Linked DNA regions of Homo sapiens. The protein of the gene in region 2 interacts with the protein of the main gene of each other region in a pairwise test. Each region holds a gene or a part of one and is shown on either strand. Other genes may lie near its edges.

Region 1 (7,036 bases), on a different chromosome or scaffold from region 2:
GTTGATTTTTCTATTTTTAGTAGAGACAGACAGCGTTTCACCATGTTGGTCAGGCTGGTCTCAAACTCCTAAACTCCTGAACTCCTGATCCACCCGCCTTGACCTCCCAAAGTGCTGGGATTACAGGCAGGAGCCAAAGCTACCAGCCTATTCCACGCAATTGTAACAGTTACTAAATACTGTCATTCATCATGTGGGGTGGGGGTGAATAAAGATACATCTTAGCAAAAACAATACAGACAATTCAGGAAAGAGTTTCCAGTTTAATTACATCAAAGCTATATCCAAAATAAAAATAACACTCAGAAACAAAGATTGCTTATAATTCCAGAACATTTTAATTCTACAGAGCTTTAATAAAAAGCCCGACAGTTTCCAAATGTTCATCAAAAACAGAATGAATATCAGTCCCATCAATAAGGGGGAAAATCAAAGAAAAAAAAAAGGAGAGGGTGAGAGATGTAAGAGATGAATGAAGGTTGACAACTATTCTCCTTTAAAAAGAGAAACACTGCTTCCTCAATGTCACTGAAGGATATGAACAGGCAAGAGGAAAGTAACTGTCCATATTTGCCTTATATACAGTATTGGGTAATTAAATGCCAGTTGGGCTGTTTAGGAATGGCTTGCTAAAACATTGAAAAAATGAAAGACTTCATCCTTGTCGTAGACTGCCACTTCAGTGGAACATTCAGTGCACATGACTGGGTGATAGATTTCTTCCACATCTGTCTCTGCCTTCTCGGCAGCATCTTCCCGGTTAGACCTCATCTTCTTATGGACCCGCCTTTTCTTCCTGTTCTCTGAGGCTTTATATCTTAGAACCTCCTCTTTGTTAATAGAACAATTCATTACAAACATTGCTCTATATTGAGTTTTGTATGATTCATGCCTAAGAGAAAAATGAAATGGAGAATTGGGGTTTATGTTCTATGTTAATAGTTTATCCATTTAGATAAAATTTGAGAATACCAAAAACTTACTGAAATACCAACCAAAGACAAGACACAGGAACAAAACAGCAAGTTTAAAGAAATTTTAAACAGTTGTTTTAAGAATAATTAAAACTTGTGAACACAGCTCACTGCAGCCTTGAACTCTTAGCCTCAAGTGATCCTCCTGCCTCAGCCTCCCTGGTAGCTGGGATTACAGGCACAAGCCACTGCACCAGGCAGAAGAAACATTTTAGTATGTAACAGTGTAAGGAAGAAATGTATCCTCTTTCCTTCTGCTTTTTGAAAGTAACTTTTTTTTTTTTTTTGAGATGGAGTCTCGCTCTGTCGCCCAGGCTGGAGTGCAGTGGCGCGATCTCGGCTCACTGCAAGCTCCGTCTCCTGGGTTCACGCCATTCTCCTGCCTCAGCCTCCCGAGTAGCTGGGACTACAGGCGCCCGCCACCATGCCTGGCTAATTTTTTTGTATTTTTAGTAGAGATGGGGTTTCATTGTGTTAGCCAGGATGGTCTCGATCTTCTGACCTTGTGATCTGCCCGCCTCGGCCTCCCAAAGTGCTGGGATTTCAGGCGTGAGCCACCGCACCCAGACGATTCTATTTCTTTTTTTTTTTTTTTTTGAGATGGGGTTTCACTCTTGTTGTCCAGGCTGGAGTGCAATGGCGTGATCTCAGCTCACCACAACCTCTGCCCCCCGGGTTCAAGTGATTCTCCTGCCTCAGCCTCCCAAGTAGCTGGGATTACAGGAATGCACCACCACACCTGGCTAATTTTGTATTTTTTAGTAGAGACAGGGTTTCACTATGTTGGTCAGTTTCATCTTGAACTCCTGACCTCAGGTAATCTGTCCACCTCGGCCTCCTAAAGTGCTGGGATTACAGGCATGAGCCACCGTGCCTAGCCTGATTCCTTGTATTTCTGTGGTCTCAGTTGTTATGCCTTCTTTTCTATTTCTAATTTATTTGGGCCTTCTCTCTTTTTTTCTAAGAGGTTTGTCAATTGTATCTTTTAAAATTATCAACTTTTAATTTCATTAATCTTCTGGCTTGTTTGTTTGGGTTTTTTGGGGTCTCAATTTCATTCATTCCTGCCTTGATCTTTATTATTTCTTTCCTTTTATTTTATTTAATAAATTAATTTTTTTTTTGAGATGGAGTCTCGCTCTGTCACCCAGGCTGGAGTGCAATGGTGTGATCTCGGCTCACTGCAACCTCTGCCTCCCGGGTTCAAGCGATTCTCCTGCCTCAGCCTCCTGAGTAGCTGGGATTAAAGGTGTACGCCACCACACTTGGCTCATTTTTGTATTTTTAGTAGAGACAGGGTTTCACCAGGTTGGTCAGGCTGGTCTCAAACTCCTGACCTCGTGATCTGCCTGCTTTAGCCTCCCAAAGTGCTGGGATTACAGGTGTGAGCCACCATGCCCAGCCTCTTTCCTTCTATTAATGTTGGATTTGGTCTGTCCTTGCTTTTCTAGTTCCTTGAGGTGTATCATTAGATTATTTGGGTGAAATGTTCTGTAAATGTCAGTTAGGCTTCTTTGGTCTACTGTGTAGTTTAACTCTGATGTTTCTTTATGGTTTTCTATCTGGATGATCTGTCCATTACTGAGAGTGGAGTGTTGAAGTCCCCTACTATTATTGTATTGCAATACTAATACTGTATTGTATCTCTCCCTTTAGATTTTTTTTTTTTTTTTTTTTTTTTTTTGAGATGGAGTCTCACTCTGTCACCCAGGCTGCAGTGCAATAGCACGATCTTGGCTCACTGCAACCTTCACCTCCCAGCTTCAAGTGATTCTCCCACCTCAGCCTCCTGAGTAGCTAGATTACAGGCACCCGCCATCATGCCCAGCTAATTTTGGTATTTTTGTGGAGATGGGGTTTCACCATGTTGGCCAGGCTGGTCTCAATCTCCTGACGTTGTGATCCACCAACCTCGGCCTCCTGAAGTGTTGGGATTACAGGCGTGAGCCACTGCGCCCAGCCCCTTTGGATCTATTAATGTTTATATACCTGGGAGTTCCAATGTTGGCTGCATAGATATTTATACTGTTATATAAATTCCTCTTGCTGAATTGACCCCTTTATATAGTAAACTTCTTTGTTTCCTTTTTACAGTCCTTGATTGTAGTCTGTTTTAAGGACAGCTATTCCTATACTGGTTTCCAGCTGCATGAAATATCTTTTCCCATTCATGTTCAGTCCATGTGTCCTTACAAGTGAAGCAAGTTTCTTCTAGGCAGCATATAGTTGAGTCTTGTTTGTTGATCCATTCAGCCACTGTCTGCCTTTAAATTGGAGAAGTGAGTCCATTTACATTGTGTTAGTACTGATAAGTAAGGATTTGCTACTGATGTGGCTTGGGTCTGTGTCCCTGCCCCAATCTCATGTCAAATTGTAATCTCCAATGTTGGAGGTGGGACCTGGTGGGAGGTGACTAGATCTTGGGGGCAGACTTCCCCCTCGTGCTGCTCTTGTGATAGTGAGTACTCACAAGATTTGATTGTTTAAAAGTATGTGGCACCTCCCCTCTCTCTCTTCCTCTTGCTCTGGCCATGTAAGATGTGCCTGCTTCCCCTTTGCCTTCTGCCATCATTAAAAGTTTCCTGGCCAGGTGCACTGGCTCAAGCCTGTAATCCCAGCACTTTGGGAGGTCAAGGCGGGTGGATCACCTGAGGTCAGGAGTTCAAGACCAGCCTGACCGATATGGTGAAACCCCACCTCTACTAAAAATACAAAAATTAGCCAGGAGTGGTGGTGTGTGCCTGTAGTCCCAGCTACTTGGGAGACTGAGACAGGAGAATTGCGTGAACCTGGGTGGTGGAGGTTGCAGTGAGCCAAGATCGTGCCACTGCACTCCAGCCTGGGTGACAAGCAAGACTCCCTCTCAAAAAAAAAAAAAAAGTTTCCTGAGACCTCCCCAGCCATGCTTCCTATACAGCCTGTGGAATTATGAGCCAATTAAACTTCTTTCTTTATAAATTATCCAGTCTCGGGTATTTCCTTATAGCAGTGCAAGAGCAGACTAATACAACTACTGGCATTTTGCTGCTTTTTTTCTGGTTGTTTTGTAACTCTTCCCTTCCTTACTGTCTTCCTTCGTGATTAAGTGATTTTCTCTGGTAGTATGTTTTAATCCATTGCTTTTTGATTTTGGTGAATCTATTATAGGTTTTTGCATTATGGTTATCATGAAATCACAAAAAAAAAACTTACAGTTATAACAAGGTTCTTTCTTTTCTTTTTTTTTTTTTTTTGAAACAGAGTTTCGCCCTTGTTGCCCAGGCTGAAGTGCAGTGGCGCAATCTTGGCTCACTGCAACCTCCACCTCCCTGGTTCAAGTGATTCTCCTGCCTCAGGCTGCTGAGTAAGCTTGGATTACAGGTGTCCGCCACGACTTCCGGCTAATTTTTTATATTTTTAGTAGAGATGGGGTTTCACCATGTTGGCCAGGCTGGTCTCGAACTCCTGACCACAGGTGATCCACCTGCCTCAGCCTCCCAAAGTGCTAGGATTACAGGCATGAGCCACCATGCCTGGCCCAGTTCTTTCTTTTCTCTCTTTATTTTTTTCTTCTTTTTTTGAGACAGAGTCTCACTCTGTCACTCAGGCTGGAGTGAAGTGGTGTGATCTTGGCTCACTGCAACCTCCACCTCCTTGGTTCAAGCAATTCTCCTGCCTCAGCCTCCCCAGTAGCTGGGATTACAGGCACGCGCCAACACGCCCAGCTAATTTTTGTATTTTTAATAGAGACAGAGTTTCACCATGTTGGCCAGGCTGGCCTTGAACTCCTGACCTCAGGTGATCCACCCTCCCCTGCCTCCCAAAGTGCTAGGATTACAGGCATGAGCCACCACACCTAGCCCTTTATTTCTGAGACAGAGTCTCACTCTGTCCCCCAGGCTGGAATGCAGTGGTGCAATCTCAGCTCACTGCAACCTGTGCCTCCCAGGTCCAAACAATTCTCGTGCCTCAGCCTCCCAAAAAACTGGGATTATAGGCAAATGCCACCATGCTCAGCTAATTTTTTAATATTTTTAGTACAGAGGGGTTTCACCGTGTTGGCCAGGCTTGTCTCAAACTCCCTGCCTCAAGTGATCCACCCGCTTCCGCCTCCCAAAGTGCTGGGATTACAGGATAAACCACCACACCCAGCCTGGCATTTTTTTTTTTCATTCCACTCCCTCCTGATCTGTATGCTTTCCACTGAGAAATCTGTTGCCAGATGAACTGTAGCTACTTTATATGCTATTTGCTTCATTTATCTTGCTCCTTTCAAGATCCTCTCTTTGTCCATAACCTTTGGACAGTTTTACTGTTTTATTGTTATATGCCTGGGGGTGGTTTTATTTGAGTCAAATGTGTTTGGTGTTCTCTGGCCATAAATATCTCCTTCTCAAGTTTTGGAACATTTTCTGCTATTATTATAATTATTATTTTTGAGACCAAGTTTTGCTCTTGTTGCCCAGGCTGTAGTGCAATGGTGTGATCTCAGCTCACTGCAACCTCCGCCTCCTGGGTACAAGCGATTCTCCTGCCTCAGCCTCCCGAGTAGCTTGGATTACAGGCATGCACCACCACGCCCAGCTAATTTGATTACATTTTTAGTAGAGACAGGGTTTCACCATGTTGGCCAGGCTGGTCTCGAACTGCTGACCTCAGGTGATCCACCCACCTCCGCCTCCCAGAGTGCTGGGATTACAAGTGTCAGCCACCATCCCCAGCTACTGCTATTAATTTTTTGAATAAGCTTTCTACTCCTTGCTTTTGCTCTACTCCCTCCTGAGTACCAATTCTTAGATTTAATCTTTTGAGATAATATTTTATATCTTGTAGACCTTCATACCTTTTCTTTCTCCTCTGATTGTGCATTTTCAAACAGTCTATCTTTAAGCTCACTGATTCTTTCTTTTGCTGATCCCTTCTGCTGTTGAGAGCCTCTAATGAATTTTTTAGTTCAGCAAATATATTTCTCAGAGTTCCCAGATTTCTTTTTTTTTTTTTTTTTTAGATGGAGTCTCGCTCCATTGCGCAGGCTGGAATGCAGTGGCATGATCTCGGCTCACTGCAACCTCTGCCTCCTGGGTTCAAGCGATTCTCCTGCCTCAGCCTCCCGAGTAGCTGGGACTATAGGCACATGCCACCACGCCCAGCTAATTTTTTGTATTTTTAGTAGAGACGGGGTTTCACCATGTTAGCCAGGATGGTCTCGATCTCCTGACCTCGTGATCAGCCCTCCTCAGTCTCCCAAAGTGCTGGGATTACAGGCGTGAGCCACTGTGCCCGGCTGAGTTCCCAGATTTCTGTTTTATTTTATTTTGTTCTTCTTTTAGAGACAGAGTCTGACTCTGCCACCCATTCTGGAGTACAGTGGCACAATCATGGCTCACTGCAGCCTCGACTTCCAGGGCTCAAGTGATCTTCCCACCTCAGCCTCCAAAGTAGCTGGGTCTATAAGCGTATGCCAAGACACCAACTAAGTTTTTTTCGTTTTCTGTAGAGACAGAGTCTTACTATGTTGCCCAGACTGGTCTCAAACTCCTGGCCTCAAGCCATCCTCCCAGCTTGGCCTCCCAAAGTAGTGGGATTACAGGTATGAGCCACTGTGCCCATAATTTTTTTAATTATTTCGATCTCTGTTAAATTTATCTGATAAATTTCTGAATTGCCTGGGCTGTCTTGGAGATCACTCAGTTTTCTTAAAACTGCTATTTTGAATTCTTGGTCAGAGAGTTCACATATCACAGTATTGTGATATGTGATATGTGATAAGGGTTCACTTGATTCCTTGTTTTGTCCATTTGAAGAGGTCATGGTTCCATTTGCTACTGTGTCTTGTGGATGTAAATGTACATCTTTGTATTGAAGGATTAGTTATTTGTTCCAGTCTTCTCTGCTTTGCTTTTTTTTGGTTATTAGATATGTTTGCCTAGAGATTCTTTGTAATTTGCAATTTGCATGTTGATATTCTTTCTTTTTCCTTTCTTCCCACTACGTCATTGCTTCCTTTTTGGCACCAGATGGCACTTTAAGCCTCAGTTCTAGTAAACACTGAGCGTGCTGCCTGTTCCAAATGAAGTGGGGGG
Region 2 (3,992 bases):
CAGCAGTCACTGCCATTCCATACTGTCTTATTCTCTGGTAACCGCTAATTGACTCTCCCTCTTTGTGGATTTGTTTCTAGTGGACATGCCACGTGAATGGAATCACATAATAGGTGGTCCTTGTGTCTTTGACTTAGCACATTCTCAAGGTTCATCCGTGTTGTAGCATGTATCAGGACTTCACTCCTTTAAAGATACAGTTTTCACAAGCTCCCCAGCTAGTTCTGATGAGTGGGCTTTGGGAGAAAAAGAGGAGCCAATTCATATCAGGTGATTCTTGGGTTATTATTGAGACATGGGGCCTCATCCCTTCTTCCTTGTGTGCCTGTCTCAGGGGCCTCAAGAGGAACAGGAGGAACACTGGCTGCCTGCCTCTTCCAGACTCCAGAGGTTGGGCAAGTCTCCCATACACTGGAGGGAGGTGTGTGTCTATGGACAGTAGCCTGGCTGCTCTGGAGATCAGGCGGATTAACTGCAAGAGACACACACACACAAGGGGATTGTCTCAACTCGAAGACTTTAATGTACATTATGCTCTTGGAAAAACATCTCCAAGGAAACAAGTGGAAGCAAAAGTCTCAACCAGCAGGGATTCTCATTCAAAAACATGGTGTGAGCCCCAGTCTTGGAAAAGGATGGCACAGGGACTGTGATCATAGTACAACAGTTTGATGTCAGGGTGGCAGGGCCTGTGTACTTGTCTAGAGAGGAACCCTGCCACACAGCACGAAGGACTCCCGAGGAACCAGGAGCTCATTACTCCGGTGACTGACAGCTCCACAGCGGGACTGGGAAGATTTAGGCTGACCAGGTCTTCTTCAGCACTTGGAAGGCACAAAACTTCGTAAAGGCCTTAAGAAGCCTGCTCTGGGCAGAAACCTTTCTGGTTGTTGTTGACTCTCCAGGTCATCAGAAACAGTCACGGTGGCTCTGGTGAGGAAGGGGAGGGTCCCACTTCTGGGTGAGGCCTCGGAATGGAACAGGTGGGAGGTGACAGCACCAGCAAGGCCTCTGAGGCCAGGGTCCACACCCACCTTGGGAGATGACCCACTGGGCCTCTGGACAGGAGAATGGGATTTCGATGGAGAAAGCTGAAGCTGACCACCTGCTAGATTGAATCCAGCTGCCTCCCTTGAAACTCTCTTCCCAATCAAGGGCTCCCAAGGAGCTGCAGGCCAAGTCCTCTGCTCCTATTTAGCAAGAGGCAGGCGGCAATTCGGGCTGATCTCCCCATCACCCTTCATTTAACCGCAAAAAAAGTCACCAACCAACTTCTCAGACCCCCTGGGCAATCCAGGGTTTCTTGTTTCCTAAGCTCCTATGGAACAAGCAATCAGTTCTTTCTTGGACTTTTGGTTCAATTCCTTCTCATTCAGAGGAAATATGGTTGCCGTGTAGGCAGATGTCTCCTAGGAGCGTGTGTGTGTAAGAGCCTGTGTGAAATTCAGCCAGGTTAGCACCAAGGCCTGGCTGATGGGGAACCCACAAATGTGCCTTCAGGATGGGTACAGCCTCTTTGGCAATGAAGAAATATATTTATCAGTGAAAAAGGGAATTCTGGCTCCATCTTTGCAGGACCTGGAGAGATTGCTGCCCTGGCAGGTCCCAGGATGGGAAGAAGTAAATGGAGAGGCCAGGACTGCAGCCCTGTGGGAAGGGGCCCCTCGCAGCTGAGAGCGCTCCCCGAGTTAGCCCATCTCGATGCCCTCAGGGAGCTCCACCACCACCGGGGCACAGTCCTCAGGTTCCGCAGCAAAGTCCCACCGGAACTTCTTGGTCAGGTGAGCTTGGAACTTTTCAGCTTTCTTTCTCAGGGTGGCATCCACGGCAATGCTGCAGGCAGAGGAAAAGAAAACCTACAGAGAACAGAGGATAAGTCACTCCTGAGAAGACGGAGGGCAGGGGGCGAGAAAGCTGTGGAAATTTCCTCATGGTGTTCGGCTCTTCTGGGGCGGGTAGATCAGCTGCTGCTGGCATAGGCCCAGGACACCTGCTATGCTCCCCCCAAACCAAGAAAGAAGGTCCAAACCCAGCTGAGATGCTAGGGCAGGACTAGAATGGAAAATTACTATCTGGGCAGAGGCTGGGGGCCATTACCCTGGCTCCACCCCCTGGGGGGTTCTACTGGACACCCGGGCAGTAACCCAGAGGAACAGGTAGTAGCTACACCAGTCGGTACTAAGGTCCTAAGAAAGGCTTGGGGGTGCTTATAAGCCCCTGGATCCCATAAAGTCCCAGGCCCCAAGCCAACACGACTGAATTGCTGCTCTAATCTTCTAAATGGGCCACAGGCTGCCAGTTTGAGGCTTCTATCCCCCTTAAAAGCTGTCTTTGATTTTTTTTTTAATTGTGGTAAAATATACAGATGGACCCTGACTTACATTCAATTTATGACACTTCGACTTTATGATGATGCAAAGTGATACACATTCAGAAGAAGCTGCACTTTGAATTGTTTCTTTCAGTACAGTATTCAAGAAATTACATGAGATATTCAACACTTCCTTATAAAATAGGCTTTGTGTTAAATGATTTTGCACAACTGTAGGCTAGTGTTAGTGTTCTGAGCACGTTTGAGGTGGGTGAGGCTGAGCTACAATGTTAGGGACGTTAGGTGTAATCAATGCATTTTTTACTTACGGTATATCTGATTTACAGTTTATTAAGACATAACCCCATGTGAAGCTGAGGAGCATCTGTACATAAGATCTACCATTTCAACCATTTAAAAATATTTTTATTTTTTAAACTGTGGCAAAATATACATATTATTTTAGCCATTTTAAGTGTACAGTTGAGTAGCATTAAGTACACTGACACTGTTGTACAACCATCACCACCATCCATCTTCAGAATGACCCCATCATCCCCGGCCAAAACTCTGCAGCCATTAAACAGCAACTCCCCCTTCCCTCTTCCCTCCAGGCCCTGGCAACCCACATTCTACTTTCCAACTCTGTGAATTCGACTACCCTATCCCCCTTCCCTCCTCCCACCAGGCCCTGGCAACCCACATTCTACTTTCTGTCTCTATGAATCTGACTACTCTAGGCACCTCATCTAAGTGGAATCATACAGCATTTGTCCTTTTGCAACTGGCTTATTTCACTTAGCATAATATCCTTCAAGGTTCATTAATGATGCAGCATGTGTCAGAATTTCCTTTCTTTTGAAGGCTGAATAATATTCTGTTGTATGCAGATACCACATTTTGTTTGTCTAGTCATCTGTCAATGCCTATTTGTGTTGTTTTTACCTTCTGGCTATCGTGAATAATGCTGCTATGAACATGGGTGTACACATATCTCTTAGGGTCTCTGCTTTCAGTTCTTTTGCACAGAAACCCAGGAGTGGAGCTGTTGGATCATACGGGAACTCCCTGTTTAAATTCTGATGAACTGCCACAGTTTTTCACAGGGGCCGTACCATTTTATATTCCCACCAGCAATGCACAAAGGTTCTCATTTCTCCACATCCTGGCCAACGCCTGTTATTTTCTCTGTGTGTTTAAATCATGCCATTCTAATAGGTAGGAGGTAGTATCTTACTGCAGTTTGGATTTGCATTTCCCTAATGATCAGTGGATATTGAGTATGTTTTCATGTGCACATTGGCCATTTGTATATCTTCTTTGGTGAAATGTCCATTCAACTTCCTTGCCCATTTGTAAATTGGGTTGTTTTTGCATTGTTGAGTTGTAGGAGTTCTTTATATATTCTGGATATCAACCCCTTATTCTGATGCTCTCATGAACAGTTTCATTTAATACAAACATGGGCAGGGGAGCAGAATGGTAATTTTTTCCACATCTGAAACCCCATTCCAGATTGTCCTGGATCCCAGTCCCTCCCTAAGAGTAATAGCAAACCCATGATTCCTTCTTATACTATTTTACTGTTTTCAAAGAAGTTTCACAGAGCATCCAACTGGATCCTCCCAATACCCTGGAAAGATACAACAGAATGCCTATTTTAAGGAAATGGAAGCTGAGA

What was found. Proteins that work in one complex are often made in the same cells at the same time.
Region 1: the proteins of AAR2 (region 2) and EAPP interact in binary tests that used the Homo sapiens proteins (3 or more experiments, as listed by UniProt).

The regions. Positions count from the first base shown.
Region 1 is NC_000014.9:34,515,695-34,522,730, forward strand, and holds the end of EAPP (E2F-associated phosphoprotein), read right to left. Parts: intron 893-7,036; coding exon 616-892; 3' UTR 244-615; downstream 1-243. UniProt on the Homo sapiens protein: May play an important role in the fine-tuning of both major E2F1 activities, the regulation of the cell-cycle and the induction of apoptosis. Promotes S-phase entry, and inhibits p14(ARP) expression.
Region 2 is NC_000020.11:36,253,442-36,257,433, reverse strand, and holds the end of AAR2 (protein AAR2 homolog), read right to left. Parts: intron 1,857-3,992; coding exon 1,689-1,856; 3' UTR 501-1,688; downstream 1-500. UniProt on the Homo sapiens protein: Component of the U5 snRNP complex that is required for spliceosome assembly and for pre-mRNA splicing.